Linked DNA regions of Homo sapiens: all the other regions are linked to region 1. The links come from fine-mapping of genetic effects on gene expression. A gene starts in region 1. Each other region holds a variant in brackets. All regions are shown on one strand. Distances are from middle to middle. Region 1 holds the start of LINC02944 (long intergenic non-protein coding RNA 2944). Region 2 has its middle 43 kb from the start of LINC02944. Region 3 has its middle 35 kb from the start of LINC02944.

Evidence for each region. PIP is the estimated chance that this variant, and not a neighbour inherited with it, causes the effect.
Region 2: its variant is the best candidate, but not a certain one, in a credible set for the expression of LINC02944 in hippocampus (GTEx, PIP 0.69).
Region 3: its variant is the best candidate, but not a certain one, in a credible set for the expression of LINC02944 in prefrontal cortex (ROSMAP, PIP 0.76).

The regions. Positions count from the first base shown.
Region 1 is chr10:118,239,003-118,243,245 of GRCh38, reverse strand. LINC02944 (long intergenic non-protein coding RNA 2944) reads right to left here and starts at 1,741. Exons shown (of 5, transcript XR_946349.3): 1 at 1,564-1,741; 2 at 1,360-1,463.
Region 2 is chr10:118,281,901-118,286,143 of GRCh38, reverse strand. No RefSeq gene overlaps it. Among named protein-coding and RNA genes, the nearest start is that of LINC02944, 43 kb to the right of the region's middle. RefSeq lists enhancers at 1-243, 244-745. The variant T/G (reference allele first, on the strand shown) is at 2,476.
Region 3 is chr10:118,274,240-118,278,482 of GRCh38, reverse strand. No RefSeq gene overlaps it. Among named protein-coding and RNA genes, the nearest start is that of LINC02944, 35 kb to the right of the region's middle. The variant G/C (reference allele first, on the strand shown) is at 2,237.

The sequences.
Region 1 (4,243 bases):
TTGTGGGAAAATAGTTTGCATTAGTCCTCAGCTGAGCTTCCCATACGCACAGGGGACTCAATATATAGAAAACAAGAAAGCCCGGAAAATGCCAATGGCTAGAGACTGGAATTCTGCAAATTTTATTTTTCTCCACTCTCACAGTAAAGACAGGATTTGTAGTAAGGCACAATACTGCCAAAATTAGTCTGATTTTCTTTTTAACAATAACATCAGCTAATAGGTAAATATTCTAGAAAATGTAGTCATTTTGAACATTTGAGATTAAGAAAAGCAGAAAATCTGGAATATTTTTGTAGACATCTAGATATATAGGCAACGACAGAGACCCAAGACCGTAAATCCGGTTTATTTTTACATATTAGCATTAAAATATCTGTCTTGCTTTCAGACAATGAGTTTTTAAAAATTAAGAATAGTGCATCAAAATGATGAAAAATTTTAGGATTTTTTGATATGTAACTTAACCCACAGAAAACCAGATTATTCATCTTGCTACTTGTTTATAGCCCTTTTTAAAAAATGAATATTTCAGACACCTTAAATTGATAAATGTTTCTCTGAAAATAAATCGCTCTTTGATAAAGAGAGTGGAACATAAATGTTTGAGATGTAGCTGAAGCTCTATCACCATTTATGGATCACGATTATAGTTCAAAACGCAAAAGCTGGTATCTTTTGAGGTCGAGCATTTTATACTGAAAGCATATATTTATAATGGAAGTTAACCTTAACATGAAGAGGAAATGATGTTATAGGATTTTCTATTTTGGAACTAATAAGCTATATCATTTCTTATTTGATGGTCTTAAGAAGCAGTTAACATGACTTGAAAGCAACATTTTTCAAGTACTGTAAACATGCTACCATGGAAAACCAGAGAGGAAAAATTTTCCTGTCTGTGAGATTCCTAAACAACTTAATTTGAGTTGTTTACTCTCAAATACTGAATGTTCTTCCCACTGTTCCGCTGTAGTCCGACACAGTGTATTTAATGATTTTTTGTGAAATTTACAACCTAGTGACTTATCATCTTACTTTGAATTGTCTTGAAGATACTTAATGCTGATACTTAACACACACACACAAAAAAACCCCAAACTCTTAGAGTCCTCACTCTGTTTTGAACTAATTAACTTTACAGGAACAAACCTGGAGATACTTATTTTTTCCACTACTACTTTTGGATTTATTATTTCTTTTTATTATAGTAGTCCGAGGTTAGAAAGCTAAAAATTAAAATGGTTGATAATTGTGAAATATATTGTTATTCATGGCAAAATATCACGATTATGCATATGTGTAAGAATTAAGATGTCTTAGGAACTAGCACGGAGTGAGCTGGATGAAATGCGGCACCTGCCACAGAATCTTTCCCCTGTGCTTTTCGGTAATGCCAGGCAAGTCCTCCGGGTTGTAGAAGTCATGGCCAGGTCATGGATTTCCGCACACAGCGATGGCTTCTGTGGGACAAAAAGCAGTGAATATCACGCTACTTACCTTGCTTTATACCACAACCGTTGCAGGCAAGGGTGTCTCCGATGGCGTCTTGGTTTTGCTTACCTGTGTTCCAAAAGAAATCTTTTCCCTGACCAGTTAACTTCTTGGTTGTTCCTTAAGACACAGGGATTTTGGGAAAGACTGTGGCATGCTTTCCTCAGTGGTTCTTCTCAGTTTAATGCCTTAAAGATGGACAAATGTTCACTGGCTGCCCGATAGGCACTGAAATTCGGAGCAATCCAACTTGTTCCAAAAGCGTTTCCCACGGCATATGCACAGTTTCACGGATGGCCACTAGATGGCGTGTGACAACCATTTGTGTCAGCCACACGCAAAGGCTTCCCATTCATTCTCCATAAAGGTATCAAAGGCGTCCTCCAGCAATTCCTCCAAGACAACTTCACTATTACGTTGTTTTCATTTCGATCCTTAAATGGTACCGGTTTACGTTTTGGAAGTAGGGGGACATTTTCAGTGGACGAGCCTAAATCAGAATGTGTGCTGTTGTATTTACGCATCACCGTTAATAAACATTAGCACTTAAAGCTGAATTAAGGCACATCGTTAAATGTCAGTGTGTATCTACCCACTTATCTACGAATGTTTCAACAAACATCTATTAAGTGTCTACTACTATGTGCGAAATGTGACTCGTTCTTCTAAAATACTGAAAGGACGTTTTATTACCAGAAAGTAATACAAGTATCAGAAAATAAAGACATTTTACGTTGCACAGTTGGGTCATTGATATAATGTTAAAATTAAATACATTAGCTCTTTCTTAGCTGAGGTTTTGTTTTCTGTGGTTTCATTTACCTGTGGTCAGTTGTGGCCCCAAAAAATTAAATGGAAAATTTCAGAAATAATTCATAAGTTTTAAATTGCATGCCATTCTCAGTTGCATGCTGAAATCTCTCATCCTCTGTCCCACCTGGGAGGGGAATCTTCTCTTTGTCCAGCATATCCACACTGTCTAAGCTACCTTCCTGTCAGTCACACGGTAGCCATCTCAGTTATCACATAGACTGTCACCGTTTCCCAGTGCTTGTGTTCAAGTAACCCTCATTTTGTTATATAATGGCCTCAAAGCATGAGAGTAATGATGCTGGCAATTTGCATATGCCAAAAAAGAAGCCATAAAATGCATCCTTGAAGTGAAAAGGTGAAAGTTATCAGCTTAATAAGGAAAGAAAAAAATTGTATGCTGACATCTTTAAGATCTACAGTAAGAAGGAAACTTCTACCCACGAATTGTGATCAATTAGTTGTAAACACCACTGCACTTGGACCAGCTTACCCATGAATGGTAAGGAAAAAAAGAAATTCATGCATAGTATATGTAGGGTTTGGTACTATTGCAGTTTCAGGCATCCACTGGGGTCTTGGAAGAATGTATCCCCCATAGATAAGGGGGGAAGTTGTATGCTCCTGGAATTTCAGAAGCTTCTCCTTTTTTTTTTTTTTGAGACAGAGTTTCGCTCTTTTTGCCCAGGCTGGAGTGCAATGGCACGATCTTGGCTCACTGCAACCTCCGCCTCCCAGGTTCAAGAGATTCTCCTGCCTCAGCCCCCTGAGTAGCTGTGATTACAGGCATGTGCCACAAAGCCCGGCTATTTTTGTGTTTTTAATAGAGACGGGGTTTCTCCATGTTGGTCAGGCTGGTCTTGAACTCCTAACCTCAGGTGATCCGCCCACCTTGGCCTCCCAAAGTGCTGGGATTACAGGCGTGAGCCACTGCACCCGGCCCAGAAGCTTCTTTTCTTGATATAGAATAAATCTGAATGTCAGGGGGAAAAATCACATGAAACACCTTGCAAATTATCTTTCCCCTTATAGCAAAATATGATTCTCCTTGCCTTAAAGAATGTAAATTCCTATAAAGAAAATAAATTAATAAAACATACAAGTCCTATAGTGGAATCACTTTTTCTTTCATGTCCATTGTCACCGAGTATAGAAATGAGGTATTTTATTACATAATTTTTACAAATCCGTATTAAGACAAACCTTAATAGGAATGACTTTATCACAAAGTGTTCAGAAAGACATGAGAAAACATCCCCAAAAGTTAGTTCCATATCTGTGGAGAAAATGAAGCAATCTCTAAGATCATTTCCACTTTTAAAAGTCAGCGGTTTTAAAAAAACTAGTGGCATTTGAGTTATTTCACCCTTCTCAAAATAGGTGTGATATTTCTTCTAAGCCAATCTCTAACTGAAAGAAAAGAATGGTCTCATTTTTAGAATTACTGGCTGTTTGTTTGAACTGAAGAATTAGTTGCATTTCAAAATAAGGACATGCCTAATGAAATGATTAAAACATACAGAACATTAAATTATAAGCAGATGGGGGTGAAACCAAGGGAGGGGGGAGGTGAGTTTGCTGGAAACCTGAAGTCCAGGGAAGCTGACAGCTTTGGGTTTTCCTCAATAACACAGAAGATGATTGTTTAAGCAACAGAGGGTAAGAAAACAACCTTTGGAAGACAATCTCTCTCTCTCTCTCTCTCTCTCTCTCTCTCTCTCCTGTCTCTTTTTTGATAGGCAGCACCTTACAAGAAAAGCCAGAAAAGAAAACCCGTGTGTATTGTAAGAGTTTAAAGAGACAGCCACTCCAAAAGAAAATGGACATTCACATTGACGCCTGGAAAAGAACCAGGAGTCACCATGCAAATGTGTCATAGCAGCGAGAAGTCCTGTGAAAGCGAAGGAGATCAGCCAGGCTCCCGTGAGTCACGGTTCAG
Region 2 (4,243 bases), 43 kb before region 1:
TCTCAAGATTGCAAAGGTTTCTAGAACCTGGTCAGAGCTGACTCTGCTCAGTGCGTGTTGTTACAGCGAGGGCATGTACTTCCCTCCACTTAGGCCCGAGAGCTGTGTGTACCTCTGACTTCATGGTGTTTGCTTGCCTGTGACCCAGAAGATAGCATCATGTCATGGACCTGAAACCCCAGAAAGTACAGCATGGTGCAAAGATGACTGTGCAGGTGTCTGCAGGTGACCCTGATTCTCACTGGGGCTCCCTGGGCCGATGCCAAGGCTGTGGGCCACTTAGAATGGCTCTGTCCTCTGGCCTCAAAGCTCTTGGATGCACTTCCTGGGACACTACATGGAATGGGTTGGGAGAACCAGATCCCCTCTGGATGGGGGGGAAGGCAGTTGAGGGACAACAGCAGCTTTCTGGGTCAAGAGTCTGCCCACCAGCCTTGGAGAGAGCAGCCCCAGCCTCCAGACCGTAAGGGCTGCCCCTGTGGGTTAGGGAGATCCAGGGTGTGAGTCTCTCTTGGGAAAGGCTTCCTTCCCAGAGAGGTTTTCCTAGTTTACCTATTCTGTGCTTGGATGTCTGATATGGTTTGGCTTTGTGTCCCCACCCAAATCTCATCTTGAATTACAATCTCCAGGTATTGAGGGAGGATCCTGGTGAGAGGTGATTGGATCATGGGGGCAGTTTCCTCCGTGCTGTTCTCATGATAGTAAGTGAGTTCTGATGAGATCTGATGGTTTTACAAGTATGTGGCAAGTTCCTCCTACACTCAGTCTTCCCTCTCCTACTGCCATGCGAAGAAGGTTCTCGCTCCCCCTTTGCCTTCTGCCATGATTGTAGGTTTCCTGAGGCCTCCCCAGCCATGCAGAACTGTGAGTCAAACCTCTTTCCTTTATAAATTACCCAGTTTTGGGAAGCTTTTTATAGCAATGTGAAAATGGACTAATACAATGCCCAACTCACTGCCTTCAGCCCAGATCTCACTCTTCTGAGCTCAGACCCTGCTATCCCATTGCCTGCTGAGCATCTCTTTACTCTCCTTCTTAATGAGAGGTCCAGGAATCACAGGATTTAGCTAACTCCAACTCAACCTTTAGGCCTCACATTAGATGTCCCTTCCCCCAGGAAGCCTTCCCTGACTCTCTCTATCCTGACAGGGTGCCCCTCTCCTATGCACCACGTGGGCCTGTACCTCCTCTATCACAAAGCTTAGCATGTTCTGCTGTGAGTCCTTGCACTATGTCTCCTCCACTGGGCTGCAAGCTCCATGAAGGCAGGACTGCACCTCTGTTTTGTTCATGGCTGTGTCTCCAGCACCTGGTTGGAGGCAGGGTGCCAAGGCAGTGCTCTGTAAATGTGTGTCCAAAGTGTCACTGAAGGGATTACTACACCATCCAAGTCCGCACACAGGTGAGTTTGAAGTGTGACTGTTAATGGTAGTGCTTAACTCACAGGCTGGCTTCAAAGCCACTTCCAAAAGAGAAACTTGTAAGATGGTTGAGCCACAAAATTGAATAAACCTCCCAAGCTAATTGGGTCTCTGAGTGCGATTGCGCTCCTTTGAATAAATATGCTTTAATACGATAGTTTAAAAACAAAAACAAAGGGGTCTTGCTGAATTAGCCAAACCTCACACAACGACAACTCATGAAACACCAGGGCGGTTTTTTTCCCTGCATGAAACACCAGGGCAGTTTTATTCTGCATTTTTTTCTGTAGTTGCCTCTTCTTGCTTTATCCAAAAGCCAGAGAAATAAAGAGGTACGTGACAGATTTGCCATTGAGCAACTCTTTGCTTTTATCAATCCTGAGGTGGGTTTTTTTTTGTTTTTTTGTTTTTTGTTTTTTTCAGAAAAAACAAGGGAAGGAAAACAACCTTGGGAATGAATTACAAAGTATTCTCTCTAGGTGCCACATATATGAAAAAACAAAGGGGACTGGGTGGGGATAGAGAAACCGGAACAAATATCTGCTGAATACCTACTATGTGCAAGGCAGTCTAAGCACCTACCAAGTGCTGTTCTAGACATTCTTTTTTTCTTTTTTGAAACAGAGTCTCACTCTGTCGCCCAGGCTGGAATGCAATGGCAGGATCTCGACTCACTGCAACTTCCGCCTCCTGGTTGAGGCGATTCTCCTGCCTCAGCCTCCCAAGTAGCTGGGATTACAGGCATGTGCCACCATGCCCAGCTAATTTTGTATTTTTAGTAGAGACGGGGTTTCATGGTGTTGGCCAGGGTGGTCTTGAACTCCTGACCTCAGGTGATCTACCCGCCTCAGCCTCCCAAAGTGCTAAGATTACAGGCATGAGCCACCGTGACCGGCCTAGACGTTTAAAGTATCTAATTGCTTTAGTGTTTGCAATAAGTCTGTGAGGTAGGTATTTTTATCCTGTTTTATAGACAGGTGAGCTGAGAGGCTGAGATGTCAGGGAGAAGGGGAGCAACAGAGGTTAAGTTACAGAATAGCACATGGTTGGGGGC[T/G]GGGGTGCTAGGATCAGACCGCAGACTCTTCAGATTCCAAGGTCATGCTTTCTCCACCATATTGCAGAAATTTTCAACCCTGATGACTGAAGCCGACTAGAGGTCTGCAAATTCGAGTTTGAATACCCAAGATTTGATGTAAGACAAGCAAACTTTGATTGGTGGTCAGAAATTACTGTCAAAGAAAGGGTTTTCCTCCTGTCGCCCCCCTTGTATGATTTATGTGAGTTTTGTTGCCTGTCACATTGGGGTTAAAACAGTCCCTAGCTGTTCTGGTACCACGGATCAAGGACGTGGGTCCCAAGTCACCCACTGCATATGGTCAAGCATTTGGGAATCAGGGATTCCTTTAAGAATCTGAAAAAAAAATGTATAGTCTCTCTTTAAAAATAAAATGCACAAAAACTTATATACAATTTAAGGAAGACCAGAAAGCCTTGGAGTTTGGGGAGTTATTCCCAAAACTCTAGGTCAAGAACCCTGAACTGGATGCTAGACTCTTCAATGACAATCTTGCTCCGTGTGTGTGTGTGCGTGTGTGTGTGTGGTGTGGTGTGGTGTGCGCGGTGTGTGGTGTGTGTGTGTGGTGTGTTTGGGGTGTGTGTGGTGTACAGTGTGTCTGCTGTGTGTGTGGTGTGGTGTGTGGTGTATGTGGTGTGTGTGTGTATGTGTGGTGTACAGTGTGTATGGTGTGTGGTGTATGTGTGGTGTGGTGTGTGGTATACAGTGTGTGTGGTGTGTGGTGTGTGTGATATGTGGTGTGTGGGGGGGGTGGTTGTGTGTGTGGTGTACGGTGTGTGTGTGCATGGTGTGTGTAGTGTGTGTGGTGTGTAGTGTGTGGTGTGTGTTTGGTGTGTGGTGTGTGTGGTGTGTGGTGTGTGTGGTGTGTGTGGTGTGTGGTGTGTGTGTTCAGTGTGTGTGGTGTGTGGTGTGTGTGGTGTGTGTGGTGTGTGGTGTGTGTGTTCAGTGTGTGTGGTGTGTGTGTGCAGTGTGTGCAGTGTGTGTGGTGTGTGTGTGCAGTGTGTGTGTGGTGGGTGCAGTGTGTGTGGTGGGTACAGTGTGTGTGTGTAATTACAGTAAATACTCATTTAACATCATCAATAGATTCTTGAAAATGAAAACTTCAAGTGAAACAACATATAACAAAACCATTTTTTTCTCACCAACATTACAATAAAAACAAGAAACAATGTTATTTGAAGATCTACTCTATATAGTTTTCCTTAAAGTTGCAGTTTCCAACAACCTATTGACAATGTGAAGCGAGGACTTACTGTGTACATATGGTGGAGCACGAGGCAGAGAGAAGTAGAAAAATAAAAGTTAATCATAGTCTTCCAGAGTCTATTCTATAGCTAGAAATGAGCACTAGGCTTAGAGCTATTTGCATGTGTCTCCTCCGGTACTGCAGCCTCCTTGCAGGTTAGCCCTTCCCTGCCTGCAGCATTTGGCTTAGGGCCTCCCAACCTGCAGGTGCTTTTGGTAGGTATTTGTTGATGAATTAACTGATATTTTTGCAATTATTCAACCCCTTATCCAATCTTATATCTAACCAATAGCAGATTACCCTGCATGAGCACAGATTACCCTGTAACGTCATGTCCTGGATTCTGGTCCCTGTGCTGCTGCTAATCAGACGGTGGCACCTTGGTCAAGTCACTCCTGCTCTCTGGGCCTCATTTATTCATTTTGACTGGCCCTTGCTATGCACCAGAGGCAGAGCTGGGAAGTCACTGGGGTTACAAGATGGATGATTCAAGGTCTCCAA
Region 3 (4,243 bases), 35 kb before region 1:
TGCAAAACTACAGAAAGCCTCTGGCGTGGATTTTCCTTGAATTTCTTTCTGTCTCCCACAGCCCACTGGGACACCTCAGAACCCCACTGGGATGCACACTTGGGCATCTCTCTGCATACCTGTGGGTGGCAGTGAACACATGAGTGTCTGGTTTATAAAGCCACCCCTGCTGATTCTGGCCCTGCTCCTCCACCTCTAAATGTGCAAAGCCCAATGTATCTATTGCTATTACCTTGATGGTTCTGGCTCAGGGTCTGTCATCAGGTTGCAATCAAAATGTTGACTGGGGCTGCAGCCATCTGAAGGCTTGACTGGGGCTGGAGGATCCACTTTCAAGGTGGCTTAGCCACATGGATAGTAAATTAACTCTGGTTATTTGTAGGCAGTTTCGGTTCCTCCCTACATGGGCCACTCCACAGTGCTGCTTGAGTCTCCTCACAGCATGGCAGCTGGCAAGTGAACCAAAGTAAGTGATCCCAGAGAGCACAAGGTGGAAGCTGCAGTGACTTTGCAACCTACCCTCAGAAGTCACACCCCATCATTTCCTCAATGTGCTATTGGTTGCATAGTAGCCCTATTCAGTGTGGAAGGAACTATGCAAGCGCAGGAATGACAGGAGATGAGAAACACTGGGGGCCATATTGGAGGCTGGCTACTAAGTGATACAGTTTGGATATTTGTCCCTGGTTAAAACTCTTGTTGAATTGTAATCCCCAGTGCTGGACATGGGGCCTGGTGGGAGGTATCTGGATCATGGGGGTGAATCCCTCATAGCTTGGTGCTGTCTTTGTGATAGTGAGTTCTTATGAGATCTAGTCATTTAAAAGTGTGTGGCACCTCCTCTCTCTTTCTCTTGCTCTGCTTCCATCATGTGATGTGCCTGCTCCCCCTTCACCTTTCACCATGATTGTAAGCTTCCTGAGGCCTCCCCAGAAGCCAAGCAGATGTTAGCACCACGCTTCCCGTACAGACTGCAGAATGTGAGCCCCAATAAACCTCTTTTCTTTATAAATTACTCAGTCTCAGGTTTTTCTTTATAGCAATGCAAGAATGGCCTAGTAAACTTAGGGTATGAGATACTTGCCTAGTGTAAGAATTTTTTGAGTAAACAATAGTTGCTAACACATATCCTGTATTTGCTATGTGCCTGTTGAAAGTGCTTACATGTGTTAATTTATTCAATCTTTCCAACAACCCTGTGAGGTAGGTATTACTATCCTCATTTTATATATGAGGAAACTGAGGTACCAAGAGTTTAAGTAAGTTTCCTAACATTATTTACTTAGTATATAGAAAACCCAGGACTGAAACTTAGGTAGACTGACTTTGGAAGCCACACTTGTAAGCCCTGTATATCCTGCCTTTTGGCCATATTAAACTCTGCCACCATGGCTTGGTTTGCAATTGTTTTGTGGGGGTGGGAAAGGAAATATCAAGGATAGAAGAGAGCCAAGGTCTTGTTTGCAACTGTGAATAGCACATGTAAGAGTCCAGTAAGATTATGATCTACATAATGACGCTTGTTGTACATCCCTCTAATGACAGCTGGCTCCCTGGCTCCCATCAATGTGCAGTAACATCCTCAGGATGACTTCTGACAGTGTGCATATGCCATGACCAGGCCGCTGGAACATCTTCACACCTCCCTGGAATAGAATGCAATTACATTTTCCCTTTAAATAAACTTTTCAAGCCAATCTATTAAATGGTTATCTGCTGTCTGCTCCAGGGAGTGCAGGCAGATGGAGAGCTGGGCTGGGGTAGACCAGTTGTAAATTCATACACACATACACACACACACACACACACACACACACACTTGAAGTCCTGCACGAGGTCACCTACAAGGTCAGGCCACCTCTTCCTGGGACCTTGCTCAGGTTTTGGTGTCTCAGAAGATGCTGCATTACCAACCTTTGAGGAGAAAACCAAATGGGCTTGTCACAAAGAAATACAAAGTGTGACTCAGAGCAGGGAGCAAGTGTGGAGGGAAGGGCCTGGAGAGGACAGTGAGTGGGAGAGCTGCCATTTGGGCTGGTCTGGCTTCAGAACCCTGCTTTGCTTTCTCTCCTTTTGGCTCAGGAGATGATTGCACATGTGGCTCACAGCTGACTCTTGCAGGATCTCAGATAAATGATGAGAAGACAGGTAACACCTGGGCAACTTTTTCTCATTCTGTGTGGATAGAGGTTGGGGCCAGATGGCCTCTCTCCTCCTCCCCCATTATTTATGGAAG[G/C]CTTCACTTACTTTCCAACAGGAAGAAGCAGGAAACACTGGGATTATGTGTTCAGGGACAGAAAACAGTGTGTACAAGCACGCGGGTTCTGGTAAGCCAATGAGTGTAGACATGGTTACTGCCCCCCAGTCGCCACTCTCTTCCAAAAGCCCTCGGCTTGGGTCTGATTAAGGACTCTTTGAAGGTCATCATAACAGATAACACTCCCACAGCATTTTCTCTGAGCCAGGCGCTCTTCTTAGGGCAACACACAGCAATCTTTTGAGGAAGGTGTGCTACTATTCCCATTTTACAGGTAAGGAAACTGAGGCACAGAGAGATTAAGAAACCTGCCCACGTGTATCCAGCTATGTAAGTGAAAGAACCCAACATGTGGATCTAGAGTCCATGCTGATAACCTCCACTCTCCAACACTCTGCAGAGCAGAAGGACCCTTGCGGTCATCTCACTCAGCGTTTCTCCAAGGCCACTCTCTTCTAAACCACCTTCATAATCTCTGCAATATCTGTAGTTCCACCTCTAATGTTATTTACTTAAATTTTTTCTTTTAATAATTCACTATGTTTACTTGAATTCATTTGTTTTAAAAGGAGTCTTGATATTCCTGCTAGAAATGAAAAATCAGCATTTGCCATAAATAGAAAGGAAAAGTCAAAACAAATTCAGTGAGAATAAGGCTATTAAATGTTTTCTAGATCCTGCTGCTCACCAATGTCCCAAAGCCCTGGGCTCCTAGAAGGAGGGATGAAAGAGAACAGAAAGGGGCATCGCACTTGCAGACTTGATTCCATGGTGTCCTGCGCTCTCTCTGGGACTTTGCAACTGCCTTGCTTGCCTCTGACGTTGTGAGGAAGCTGGGTGAGGCCAGTGCTCTCTTCTCATCACCAAGAAAACAGGCTCAGAGAGGGGAACTGCTATGCCCAAGAGCATGCTAGTGGCCAAGCCAAGACCAGTACTCAGGGCCCTGACTCCCAAGCCTTATTGTCCCCCACACCCATTTGTAGACATTTTCACACAGGCCTCACCTACAAGGTTACTCCTTGTAGGGTTAACTGGTCCCCTACATCTTGACTCTGGCTCGGCCACCTCAGCTTGCCCTTGGGATCCCACATTTCCAGAGTAATTATAAGCCCCTGCTGTCCCGGCTGTCACCACCCATTCTGCAGATAGCCCCCGGCCACGTGTGATGGGAGTGGGGCACTGACCTTGAAATCAGGACCTCTCGACACTGCAGAGGCTGCCTCTCACTGTGGCCTGAGGCAATTAGCTTCTTCCAATCTGCCAACCCATCTATAAATTGAGGCTGATTGCGCTTTTTCTGCATACTGCTGAGGGTTGGTGTTAGAATCCAGGTGAGGTCATCGATTTGAAAATGCTTGGGTAATAAACATGCCCTAAGAATGCAAGTTCTTATTCACTCTGACACTCAGTTATCTGGCATCCACAAGTGATGAGACCCATGAAGGAAGGAAAAAGGCATTTGGATAGACAAAGTAGATATATCCAAGTTGATCCATGCATTCCTGGGGCATCTTATCCTGCCACGTTGTGTGCCAGGTGCTGGCTGGGTGTAAGGAATACAACTAGGATCCCCTGTGGCCTCCCACTTGGAAAGATTCACAACATGTAAAACACAAATGCAGCGTATAAAAGTGACGTGCTTCTTCATGGTACACCCTAGCCAGACCCAAATCTAACAGGTTTGGTCATCTGTTTTTCTAAATCACATGACTTCACAGCTAACACATGAGGAGGAGGAAGAGGCTGTTTCTGGGGCAAGGCAAAACTGCCCTGCTAGAGAAGATGGCTGACTTGGAGGAAAGAGATAAGTAAACAAAGAGTCTGGACTTTGTGCATTGAAGTCTGGGGTCATTTAGTGGAGGGGCACAAAACTCCCACAAAAACTTGCAAACTTCATAGGCTCCGAGGTTTGCAGCTTTTCAGATTATAGTAACAAATAACCCATATTCATAACGATCTCCTGAATCGAGGGCTTTGCACTTGGTT